Regions from separate parts of the Homo sapiens genome. Here regions 1 and 2 are each linked to region 3. The links come from fine-mapping of genetic effects on gene expression. A gene starts in region 3. Each other region holds a variant in brackets. All regions are shown on one strand. Distances are between the middles of the regions.

Evidence for each region. PIP is the estimated chance that this variant, and not a neighbour inherited with it, causes the effect. A credible set is the group of variants that fine-mapping cannot tell apart.
Region 1: its variant is the best candidate, but not a certain one, in a credible set for the expression of SBF2-AS1 in subcutaneous fat (TwinsUK, PIP 0.89).
Region 2: its variant is the best candidate, but not a certain one, in a credible set for the expression of SBF2-AS1 in whole blood (INTERVAL, PIP 0.58).

The regions. Positions count from the first base shown.
Region 1 is chr11:9,343,990-9,348,206 of GRCh38, reverse strand. No RefSeq gene overlaps it. Among named protein-coding and RNA genes, the nearest start is that of TMEM41B, 32 kb to the right of the region's middle. The variant C/AC (reference allele first, on the strand shown) is at 1,790.
Region 2 is chr11:9,892,002-9,896,218 of GRCh38, reverse strand. SBF2 (SET binding factor 2) reads left to right here. Exons shown (of 40, transcript NM_030962.4): 17 at 208-276. All of the region lies in intron 1 of LOC101928008 (a long non-coding RNA gene), which reads right to left. Among named protein-coding and RNA genes, the nearest start is that of LINC02709, 130 kb to the right of the region's middle. RefSeq lists enhancers at 1,575-2,075, 2,076-2,576. The variant A/G (reference allele first, on the strand shown) is at 2,465.
Region 3 is chr11:9,756,620-9,760,836 of GRCh38, reverse strand. SBF2-AS1 (SBF2 antisense RNA 1) reads right to left here and starts at 2,544. Exons shown (of 3, transcript NR_036485.1): 1 at 2,334-2,544. It overlaps LINC02709 (long intergenic non-protein coding RNA 2709), which reads left to right and starts at 1,304. Exons shown (of 3, transcript NR_033972.1): 1 at 1,304-1,408; 2 at 2,994-3,070; 3 at 3,939-4,217. RefSeq lists silencers at 2,095-2,214, 2,335-2,734 and an enhancer at 4,206-4,217.

The sequences.
Region 1 (4,217 bases), 410 kb after region 3:
TCAGCAGGAAGCAGTTACAGCGGTTGTCGGCCAACCTCCCCAACAGCACTTGGGTTTTCCTGTTGAGAGGGGGATCTAAAAGACAGGACTAGCTGGATTACCTAGGCTGACTAAGAATACTTAAGCCTAGCTGGGAAAGTGACCACATCCACCTTTAAACACAGGGCTTGCAACTTAGCTCACACCCGACCAATCAGGTAGTAAAGAGAGTTCACTAAAATGCTAATTAGGCAAAAAACGGGAGGTAAAGAAATACCCAATCATCTATTGCCTGAGAGCACAGCGGGAGGGACAATGATCGGGATATAAACCCAGGCATTGGAGCTGGCAACAGCTAACCTCTTTGGGTTCCCTCCCTTTGCATGGGAGCTCTGTTTTCACTCTATTAAATCTTGCACCTGAAAAAAAAAAAAAAAAAAGGAGGTGTGTGTTCTCTCACTGGAACGCATAACCTAATAAAAATTAAATTTAAAAACCTCAGCTGGAATGCATTAAGAAACAAAGAGAACTGGGAAAGAATAAATGCAGTTGAGTTGGGATGTTAAATTACATTTTCCTATTTTCTTAGTTTTGGAGCTTAGAACAATAGGTGGCAAGTACCCCTATATAAAGAGATATGTCAGATCATTTATGCAGGACTTGCTCAAGGGGTAGCCTCCAAATTGGTTCTGAAACCTGTAGCCCATTACCCACTTTTGGCCTGAGAAAAGAAAATCAAGGAGAGGAAGTTTGAAAAGTGAAGATTTCTTTGAAGAGAACTGTCAAGAGTGCTGTGGTTTTCTTGCTCTCAAGTCAAGGGCAAGCAAGGAGTGAGTGGGAAAGATTAGCATCTCATGGTGACATGTGCTGAGTGGAAGAAACGCTCTGTGGCTACTGGCAACTAGAGCAGAATGTGGTGAGAAGATTTCTTGGGACAGTGTGACATGAGTGCCTTGAGTTGTGAGGTAGAGAGACTCATCTGTTATCTCACCTGAGAGCTAGGTGAGAGGCTTATTGGAAGACAGAAAAGACAATAGGGTAAAGGGCTAGGGAAGCGGGGGTTGCAGTGAGTTTGAAAGGTAGTAGTAAGAAAGACTAAAATCATTCCTTCCTTTGGACAAAAGATAAGAAGCCTGAATTCTTTTTTTAGCTCTATTACAAATGAGTTGTGCTAGTATGGAAAAACTACTAGAACCCTCTAGGTTTGTTTTCTCTTCTATAAAAGGAAGAATTGAGGCTGGACACAGTGGCTCATGCCTGTAATTTCAGCACTTTGGGAGGCCAGGGGAGGATTACTTGAGGCCAGGAGTTAGAGACCAGCCTGGGCAACATAGTGAGAATCCATCTCTACAAAAAAAAAAAAATTATTTTAATTAGCCAGATATGGTAGTATGTCCCTGTAGTCTCAGCTACTCAGGAGGCTGAAGTGGGAGGATCACTTGTGCCCAGGAGTTGGAAGTTATGGTGAGCTTTTTTTTGTTGTTGTTCCCATCCATGCTGGAGTGTAGTGGCACGATCTCAGCTCACTGCAACCTCTGCCTCCCGGGTTCAAGCGATTCTCGTGCCTCAGGCTCATGCCACCACACCCAGCTAATCTTTATATTTTTAGAAGAGACTGGGTTTTGCCATGTTGGCCAGGCTGGTCTCGAACACCTGACCTCAGGCGATCCGCCTGACTGGGCCTCCCAAAGTGCTGGGATTACAAGCATGAGCCACCATGCCCAGTGACAATGAGCTTTGAGTGTGCCACTGTACTCCAGCCTGGACATCAGAGCAAGACCCTGTCTCTCAAAAAAAAAAAAAAAAAAAA[C/AC]AGGGCCGGGCACGGTGGCTCACTCTTGTAATTCCAGCAATTTGGGAGGCCGAGGTGGGCGGATCACCTGAGGTCGGGAGTTCGAGACCAGCCTGACCAACATAGAGAAACATCGTCTCTACTAAAAATACAAAATTAGCAGGACGTGGTGGCACATGCCTGTAATCCCAGCTACTCGGGAGGCTGAGGCAAGAGACTTGCTTGAACCTGGGAGGCGGAGGTTGCGGTGAGCTGAGATCGTGCTATTGCACTCCAGCCTGGGCAATAAGAGCGAAACTCTGTCTCAAAAAAAAAAAAAAAGAGATGGCCAGGTGCAGTGGCTCATGCCTGTAATCCCAGCACTTTGGGAGGCCGAGAGGGGAGATCATGAGGTCAGGAGATTGAGACCATCCTGGCCAACATGGTGAAACCCCATCTCTACTAAAATACAAAAAATTAGCTGAGTGTGGCGGCACCTGCCTGTAGTCCCAGCTACTCGGGAGGCTGAAGCAGGGGAATCGCTTGAACCCGGAGGCAGAGGTTGCAGTGAGCCAAGATCACGCCACTGCACTCCAGCCTGGTGACAGAGCAAGACTCCTTCTTAAAAAAAATAGAAAGGAAAAATTGGACTAGACTGTCTTTAAGGTAGGGACCTTTTATGACTCTCTAGTTCTACAGGTGTATTCTGATGAGCTCCATGGTGACTCATGGACTGGGATGAATTATTATGGTATACAGATGGTCTCTGACTTATGATGGTTCAACTTAGGATTTTTGACTTCAGGAGGTACCCATACAATCATTCTGTTTTCACTTTCAGAACAGTGTTCAATCAAGTACATGAGATACTTAAGACTTCATTATAAAGTAGGCTTTGTGTTAGATGACTTTGCCCAACTATAGGCTAATGTAAGTGTTCTGAGCACATTTAAGGTAGACTAGGCTAAGCTCCGAAGTTTGGTTTAGGTTAGGTGTACTAAATGCACTTTTTTTTTTTTTTTTTGAGACAGAGGAGTCTCACTCTGTTGCCCAGGCTGGAGTGCAGCGGCACGATCTCGGTTCACTGCAAGCTCCGCCTCTCAGGTTCATACCATTCTCCTGCCTCAGCCTCCTGAGTAGCTGGGAGTACAGGCACCCGCCACCACTCCTGGCTTATTTTTTTGTATTTTTAGTAGAGTCGGGGTGTCACCGTGTTAGCCAGGATGGTCTCGATCTCCTGACCTCGTGATCCGCCTGCCTTGGCCTCCCAAAGTGCTGGGATTACAGGCGCGAGCCACCATGCCCAGCCTAAATGCACTTTTTTTCTTTTTTTGAGACGGAGTTTTGCTTTTGTCGCCCAGGCTGGAGTGCAGTGGCACAGTCTTGGCTCACTGCAACCTCTACCTCCCGGGTTCAAGCAATTCTCCTGCCTCAGCCTCCTGAGTAGCTGGGATTACTCGTGCCTGCCACCATGCCTGGCTAATTTTTCTATTTTTTTTTTTTTTTTTTTTTAGTAAAGACAGGGTTTCACCATGTTGGCCAGGCTGGTCTTGAACTCCTGACCTTAGGTGATCCACCTGCCTCGGCCTAAATGCACTTTTGACTTACTAGATTTTCAATTTACAATGGGTTTATCAGTACATAACCCCATCATAAGTTGCGGAGCATCTATAAATACATTCCATAATATTAGGCCCTAGAAATTCAGGTCTCAAGGGGACAGTATTCTCCCCTCCCTAACCGCTCTTCTCTTAACATTATTTAAAAGATGAATTAATTTTAAAATTTCCAAAAATAGAGTTATCCATAATACCACTACCTGACACATTACTAATTATATTTCAGTGGGTGCTTTTCTAGACCTTGACCATCTCTCCTTGTAGTTGCTGCAGTTGCAATCAGTAGCACACACTTTTTGTGGTCTTACAGCACACTAGTTCAGTAAACTGTGCATAACCAATGGGAGTGAAGTTTAAGGTGCTTCCAATCATTGCACAATAAATGCAGGCAAGGAATAACTTGGCCTTTAATAAAACAGTCTTTAGGGGCACAGAACTACTCTGCTGTGGCCTCTCTTACTCCTTAAGCCCCTTCCTCCTCCCCACCCTTACTTCCTGATCCCTTCAGCAACAGCAGCAACTTAAGAGGCCCAGTAAATCTAAGCCGCAGCAGCCTCTGACCTACATGACACTCACTCTGAGGCGGCTTCTGGTTTAGAAATGCCAGGTAATCCATTTAGCAGACATTGCAGCACACAGAGAAAATAGATATCAAAGGGATGTGGATATGCGCTGCTGATTCTGCTATTGTTAAGGCAGGTTTCAAGAGATGTTGACAGACAATCAGCAAGGTGATGACACTCACCCACTTACTTCCAACTCATGTGTCTCAATTCTTATGACCTCAATCCTACCGACAGGAACACACGTGAATCCAGCCCCAGCAAAGTCAAGCTTTTCGGAAGTCTTTG
Region 2 (4,217 bases), 140 kb before region 3:
CACACAGTTTTTTCCCCCAAAACTTACCTAGCTATGTCTTAATGGCAATTTGGAATAAGAGTACAAACCCCTCCGTCAGGTCCTCTGCAAAATAAAAAGGTAAAAACCCCATAGGACAGTAAACAGTGTATCCCAGATGTTAGTTCGCATGTATTTGTGATTTCTGGTAAATATCCTAATGCTCTTTTGTCTTTGTTTTGCTTAAAGGATTGTTCAAGTTTAGAAGAATACAACATTGCCGCAGCATTACTCCCTTTGACCAGTGCTTTCTATAGGGTAAGTTTCATTGGTCCATATATAAGCTTGTTATGATTTACATAAATGTATTCAGTTTGATTTATTATGGAACTACATGAAAATCCTGTCCTCTTAGTAGCATGCCTAAGATATATCTGCGGTTATATTTATTATAACATTTATTGCATGCTATGTGTAGGAAATTTAATATAGAACACTAAATCATCTCCTAAAATACCACCCACACCCGTTACATCCTTTTCCTTAATTTTCTTTATAGTACTTCATAACACCTGAATTTATGTTGCATATTGGTTTGTTTACATGTTTTTTCCCCATCACAGAAAGTAAATTTCATGAGGCTGGAATATTGTCTGTCCTCTTTACTGCTATGTCCCAGGGCCACTCAGTAAATATTTATTGAATGAATGACATTGAAGCCAGAAATTAGAGTTTAACTTTACTGGTAATTTCTGCGAACCTTCTGAGAACTTTCTGGAATGTTCACAGTGATTTTTTAAAATTCTGTCACTTACTACAGTTATATCTATGCTTTTTCATAAATAGATTCATTCTTATGGCAGAAAAAACCAGCAAATTTCTTTTCCCGTGAAGGACTTGTAAAGAATTAGATAACCACCCACACTCAGAACAATGCATTTAATACATCCTTCTGAAATATGCAATCATAAACAGTAAATCTGTGGTAGCAGCTGACTTACTATTCAGCTACATGCACAGTCAGCTTCAGGAAGCAATAAGTTAACAAGTTTGGTAACTGCCATACTGTTTCTCTGTGTTAGCAGATTAATCATACATAGGTTTTAGTGGTGGGCTTAGATTTGATTTTTTGTGGTTGGCATGGTTTGTTGTTGGATGAGTTTGTTTTGGGTTATTTTGGTTTAGGGATGAATCAGTCAAGGTCTAGTCAGGAGCCAGAAACCACACCAGTAATTTGAACAGAGAAATTTTGTTTTATTTTTATTTATTTATTTATTGAGACAGAGTTTTAGCTCTTGTTGCCCAGGCTAGAGTGCAATGGCTCAATCTCGGCTCATTGCAACCTCCTCCTCCCATGTTCAAGTGATTCTCCTGCCTCAGTTGCCCAAGTGGCTGGGGTTATAGGCATGTACCACCACACTTGGCTGAGTTTTTGTATTTTTAGTAGAAATGGGGTTTCACCATGTTGGTCAGGCTGGTCTCAAACTCCTGACCTCAGGTGATCCACCTGCCTCGGCCTCCCAAAGTGCTGGGATTACAGGCATGAGCTACTGCGCCTGGCCTATTTTTATTTTTTTGAGGCAGTGTTTCACTCTGTTGCCCAGGCTGTAGTGCAGTGGCACAATCTTAGCTCCCTACAGCCTCTGCCTCCTGGGCTCAAGTGATCCTCCCATCTCAGCCTCCCAAGTAGCTGGAACTACAGGCACACACCACCACACCCAGCTAATTTTTTTTTTCTTTTTTTGTGACAGGGTCTCGCTCTGTCGCCCAGGCTAGAGTGTAGTGGCGCGATTTCAGCTCGCTGCAACCTCCACCTCCCAGGTTCAAGTGATTCTCCTGCCTCAGCCTCCCGAGTAGGTGGGACTACAGGCACGTGCCACCACACCCAGCTAATTTTTGTGTTTTTAGTAGAGACAGGGTTTCACCGTGTTGGCCAGAATGGTCTTGATCTCCTGACCTTGTGATCCGCCTGCCTTGGCCTCCCAAAGTGCTGGGATTACAGGTGTGAACCACCATGTCCAGCAGATTTTTTGTATTTTTTTGTAGAGACAGAGTTTCACCATGTTGCCCAGGCTGGTCTAAAATTCCTAGACTCAAGCTGTCTGCCCACCTTGGCCTCCCAAAGTGCTGCAATTACAGGGGTGAGCCACCACGCCTGGCTGATTTTTGTATTTTTTTGTAGAGACAGAGTTTCATCATGTTGCCCAGGCTGGTCTCAAATTCCTAGACTCAAGCTGTCTGCCCACTTTGGCCTCACAAAGTGCTGCGATTACAGTGGTGAGCCACCACGCCTGACCAGAAATTTTAATATAAGGAGTTATTAAGTAGTAATAGGGGATTAACTACTAAGAGGTAAAGAGAATTCGTAAGAATGCAGGAATAAAATATAGGGAGCAACTACTACCTCTAGGGCTCAGGCATACTACCTAACAAAGAAGCAAACTTGGAAGAGAGCCCCTTCCCAGATCTAGGCTGATTCAGATCATGTTGGAGAGGTGTTGTGGCC[A/G]CTGGATGGCATCGAATTTCAAGAGACCAGAACTGGCAAGCAGTAAACTGCCTGCTGGAGTGCTGGCAAGACTTGCTAGGAAGCCCCCCACTAGGATGGCCGTGAAACTTCTAGGGTGCTAGTGAAACTTGATAGGAAGCTACCACCTGGGGTACCACTGAAACTTTATAGATAGCACTGCCACTGTGGTCCCACACACCACCATTAGGTGCTTACCACAGGAGCAAGAAGGAGAAAGTACACCAGAACTAGGAAGAGAATACACTTTCTACTGCAGTGTTCCTTCAGCACCTTTACTGGCAAAGCTTAATATTCTGCATTTTGGCAAAGGAGAAATGTTTATAAGGGCCAGTTCCAGTATCACAAAGCAAGACAGAGAAGGATAGATTTGGAAGAAAGAAGTACTGCATTGATAACAGAGGGGTTAGGTAAGGTAGATCACACGGATTCTCGGATATTTTCTAAATCTTTACCCTTTGGAAAATTATTTCTAGTGCATATTAGATTTGTTAATTCAGGAAGTAGATGTAAATTACATATTCCTGGGCACAAATTGCAAATTAGCCATCCTCATACTGTCCAGCCAGTATAAATTCCTGGGTCTTGCCAGCATTGCTTCAGAGAATGGACTCAGCTGCTTGTCTTGTTTAAACTTACTTTTAAAATACTTTAAATAACATTATTAATTTTTTTCAGTGGAACAAAAGTTTATTGAGTATCTCAATATAAAAAGCTACTATAACAGGCAACATCTGGGCAGCAACATTAATAAAACATTGACATGGTCCCTAGGAACTTATATTAATAGTCTAATACTGCAGATAATTTTTAAAAATCAAACTGGTCCACAATGCCACCAACCAGATGGACATTATCTTAAGTAAAAGTTATGTATATACCGGGTACGGTGGCTCATGCCTGTAATCCCAAAACTTTGGGAGGCCGAGGCGGGCGGATCACCTGAGGTTGGGAGTTGAAGACCAGCCTGACCAACATGGAGAATCCCCATCTCTACTAAAAATACGAAATTAGCCGGGCGTGGTGGCGTATGCCTGTAATCCCAGCTACTTGAGAGGCTGTGGCAGGAGAATTGCTTGAACCTTGGAGGCGGAGGTTGCCATGAACCGAGAGCGCACCATTGTACTCCAGCCTGGGCAACAAGAGCAAAACTCCGTCTAAAAAAAAAAAATTATATATATATATATATTTTCCAGATAGTACAGAAAGGAACAAAATGCAAAGTAAAAGTTCCCTTTTCCACCTTCACCCCATTTCCTCTGAACCATTGGTTTCCTTCCTGGGGAAAAGGAGTGGGAATGAGGGTCAGGGGCCAGGGAAGAGTCACGCATTACTGCCAGCACATGCAGATAAAAATTTTCTTTTTTTTGGTGGTGGATCACTTGAGGCCAGGAGTTCGAGACCAGCCTGGCCAACATGGTGAAACCCCATCTCTACTAAAAATACAAAAATCAGCCAGCCATGGTGGAGTGTGCCTATAGTCCCAGCTACTCAGGAGGCTGGGGAAGGAGAATCACTTGAACTCAGGAGGCAGAGGCTGCAGTGAGCCGAGATCACGCCACTGCACTCCAGCCTGGGTGACAGAGCAAGACTATGTCTCAAAATAAAAATAAAAATAATTTTTTTTAAAAGTATCGTTTTTAACAAAAACAAACCATTTACTCTATTTTCACACCTTGATTCTTTCACTTAGTGGTACATCTTGGTCATCCTCTCATAATAGCACATATACCTA
Region 3 (4,217 bases):
AACTCTGACAGCTATAAGCAAGATAGATAGGTCTTACTGTCTAAAGGCGGGAAGACCAGTTGGGGTAATATTAAAATATTCCAGATGATGAATTAGGGCAGAGACACAGGGGCTTCAGAAAAGAAGATTCAAGGGAGAGACAGGAAAGCAGCTCTGGGAACAAGCCCAAGCCAGAAGGGCAGGCCTAGATGGAAAACTGTCTAATAGGGGGCCTCAGTTTTGCAATCACCAGCTCAGCCCAAGCACTGTATTTGCCCCAGATCTCAAGTGGAACCAGGCCTCCTGCACATTCTGCACATTTGGGGCAGAGTTCCCAAGAAGCCCAATCCAGAACCAGTCCTCTCTGGGCCCTTCAGCAGAGCACTCTGTCCTGCATCTCAGGTCTCTGAGTAAGTGGTATTTCCAGAGTACACATGCCCCCACCAACTCATCTCACAGCTCAGCCTTGGCTACAGAAAGCCAGGGCCTCTTCTTTGTTAATTTTCTTCAACTCCTCAGAGGTTGGGCCTCCGGCCCAGTGAAGTCAGGGTCTGGGAGGCAGCCCTGGCTCCCTGCCCGCCCACAGAGGATATATTTGGAGCAAGACAACTCCTTCTGGACACAGAGCTTGGGACCCACCCCGCAGGGCTGCCCCAACCAATTTTACTGAGTATCCACGCAGTGTGGTTGTCACTCACGTTTTCACTTGTTAGTTCATTCATTTGTTTACTCATTCATTCATTCCACAAACATTTATTGATCTGCTGGTATGATGCAGCAGGTACAACAGGATGTGTGGTGGGCACATATCTGTATATGTGTGTATATGGGTATCTCTAAGCAAGGATGGCAGAACACACTCTGGGTGCCCTCCCTCAGGGTTCAGTGGTGATGATGACTCACACTCAGGTGTATATGGCATCTGTGGGGACCTGTGTGCAAGTACATGCAGGCACGTGCTCTCTGAGGAGGTAGCTATGACTCAGTGGCACGCGGCATCTGTGGGTATCTGTGTGGATATGTGTCTGAGTGCAGGCATGAGCATAGGCGCTTGCTCCCCAGGGGGTGGGGGAAGTGGTTGTGACTCAGCTGCACATGGTGACTGGGAGCCTACAGGCCAGCTGTGACTTTATGGCTTTGCTTATTTGCCAAGCCAAACAGTTAGTGTTGGGCGTAAATATTCTATCAGAGTGTGCATGGAATAAGTCCTGAGCTAGGGACCTCCAGCAGGCAGGAGAGACTCAGTAGTCTTGGCCCAGCAGCATCTGTCCCCCGCCTGCCCCCTCCACCGTAGGTATACAGGTCCTACCCTCCCTCCCTCGCCCTCTCCACTCCTGCCTCCTGGAGACTCAGCGAGCTCGTCCCTCATTGACTCTACATCACCCCTCACCCACCGGTCCCAGGTGCACACACGAGACCAGGCCCAGAGGTACAGGGCTGTGGCCTTCGAGCTGCCAGCCCAATCCATTTTTCTACCATACCAAAAACCCCTTCTTTTTCAGCCCTCATGACCGCGTCTTCCTCCAACATCCCAGCCCCGGTCGTAGGCTCGGCAAGCCCGCTCCAGGGCCCACTTCCCATCTCGGCGGCCGCAGACCCGCTGCCTCCCCATCGGCGCGGCCCCATCTTCACCTCTGAGCTCCTTGCCCCTCTCTCCCTGGCTGTCTCTGTCCTTATCTGTCCCAAGTCTATCTTTGTCTCTTCTCGAGCCGGGCTGTCTGCAGCAGAGGCTTCACCAGAGTGGAGGTGCTGACAGAGTGCGGGGTGTGGGGAGGACAATCTGTGTCCCTTCTTGAGCCTTATCGGGAAAACTTAAGTCACTGCTCAGGGCTCAGACTGGAATTTCGCCCTAGATGACCTTGCTGGGTCTGCTGGGGCCTCCGCAGGGACAGCCAGGGTCAAACGAGTCAGGAAACAGGCCCCTGCTTGTGGGCCGCCTGCCCGCCCTCATCCCAACCAGGCCGCCTGCAGCGCCCTCGGCGGGAGACGCCGGGGAGGGGAGAGAAGGGAGGAGACGGGAGGGGCGGCCCCGTCTTGGGCACTCGCAGGGACTGGCGGGAGGCCGTGTGGGGCTGGAATCGTGACCACGGATGCCGCAAGGCCACAGGGCCCTCCTCGGGGTCCCGGCCGGAAATCCTCAGGGGCCCGAGGAGGAGCCGGGGCGGCCACCCGACCACCTCCCCGCGGGCCGCAGGCAGGCGGCGCGCCGTACCCGCCGAGAACGCGGGAAGAGGCCATCGCGTCTGGACACCTGGGCTTCGTCCCAGAGCCGTCACTGCTGTGTCCCCTTGGGCAACTGCCTAGCTCCCTGAGCCTCACTTTTCACACCTGGAACATAGGAAAATTGCGCCCACCTTCTGGGTCGTGGCAGATAAAATGAGTTCACGTCAGGGCTGGCTCTCAGGAGGCGCTCAGTGCTCGTGGCTTTCCTCCCCGGTGGACAGAACCCCGGGGCAGCTCCCCGCGCCCTGACGCCCAGAGCGGAGCGGCCCGGAGCGGAGCGACCACCGCACACTGGACCCGACCCTAGTCGGCCCCGCGCGCCCGGGTCGGGGCTGGAACCTGCGGGCGTGGCGCACGCCTGCCACCTGGCGGCGAAGCCCCCAGGCCGCCCGTCCCGCCCACGGCTGCGCGCGTGCGCAGGCCTGCACCACCCAGTCGCCCCCACCACGCCGCGCCCCGCCTCCCTCGCCCAGGGACTTCCTAGGCCACGCCACGCCGCTCCACCAGCTCAGGGAACCCCCTTGGCCGTGCAGACCTGCGCCACAGGGTCGTTTCCTCCCCTCCTTCCCTCGAAAGCGTATGCATTTCGTTGCCCCTGGAACTGGGGTCATTTCAGGACCTCCCAAGGAGGGTCAGGATGGTGGTATTGGCCTTAGGGGACGCGGGCTCAGGTTGGCGGTTGAACCGCATGTTCCTGTTTCAAACAAACCTAAATGTAGGCCTGGAAGGCTGTGCACTGAAATCCTAGTATTAGGTTGGTGCAAAATTAATTGCGATTTTTGCCATTGTAGGTTGTCTGCAGAGTGAGATTATGGCGAAGCATTTTATTCTTTTTACAAACCTGCTTTTTCTCAGTTTTCCACATTGGGTATGTATTGGTGATAAGGAAAAAAAAACTACAAAAGATATTTTTTGAAAAAAAAAAATCACATGGAGAGAGAGAAAAGGGGACGAATTGGCCTATCAAGGGGGTTTCCGGAAGTTAACTTTCTAGTATCTCTGTTTGCATGTAGACTCCCAGGGTGCCCTGGGAGAAATGGAGAAATGAAGCCCAGGACATGAGGCATTGGGATGGATGGTCCATCTTTCACATGTGCTGGGATTAACTTCCTTTAAGAAAAAAGGAAGGCAAAAGGGTTCCCAGCCTTAGGGTTGGGTGGGGTAGAGGCTCCAAATAAACCAGAAACTCTTGAGTAGAGGTGGTCAGTCATTGCTGTCTGGTTCAAGCGCTGATTGGACCCAAGGGGACCAGATCCAGGATATATTTGAGAACAAGGAATTTATTTCAGAAAGGGGCCACTCAACAGTCAGCATTTACTAAGAACCTGCTTGGTACAGGGTGCTGGAACTACCACAACGAGGCTGCCCCTTCCCTTAAGGAGTTCTGGGCTGACTTTTGGGAAAGTTCATCAGCGGTGACGGGTAGTGAGTGAGGCAGATCAGCAGGAACATTACAAGCCGCAGGAACCGTCAGCTGCTGATAGAGGCCCTGGGAGGTAGAGTGGAGAACAGCTCTGGCCACCACAGCTAATGGCCACCAAGGGAGCGACAGGACCCTTGAGGGGAGAGCAGAGGCTGGAGGTCCTTGGGGTCTACTGGGAGGTGGCAGTCACAGGCCCTTGGGTCCTCTCCACAGCCTTGCTGGAACCTTCCAAAGAGCAGGTGTGACTGGGGAAGTGTGTTGCTGGGCTGTCACCCTCACCTGGGACCTCCTCTGTGCACTCATCCATTCACAGATTTGCCAGCTACCTGCCTTTGCAGGACACCTCAGAAGTTACAGACTTGCCTGTGGAAATGCAGAGAGCACCTGAGGTATTTCCCGGACTCTCCAGTAGTAGCCTTGAATGGCTGACCAACCGCAGTCACCTGCCAGATCTTCTCAGAACCGGCCAGCCCACCAGCGACAGGCCCATTAAGTGGCCTGGCCCAGCCCAGATGGAAAACCCCCTCCACGTGACTTTCTAAAGAACATGCATGAAGACAAAACACCAGGTGCCTCAGGTGTGACACCCTGA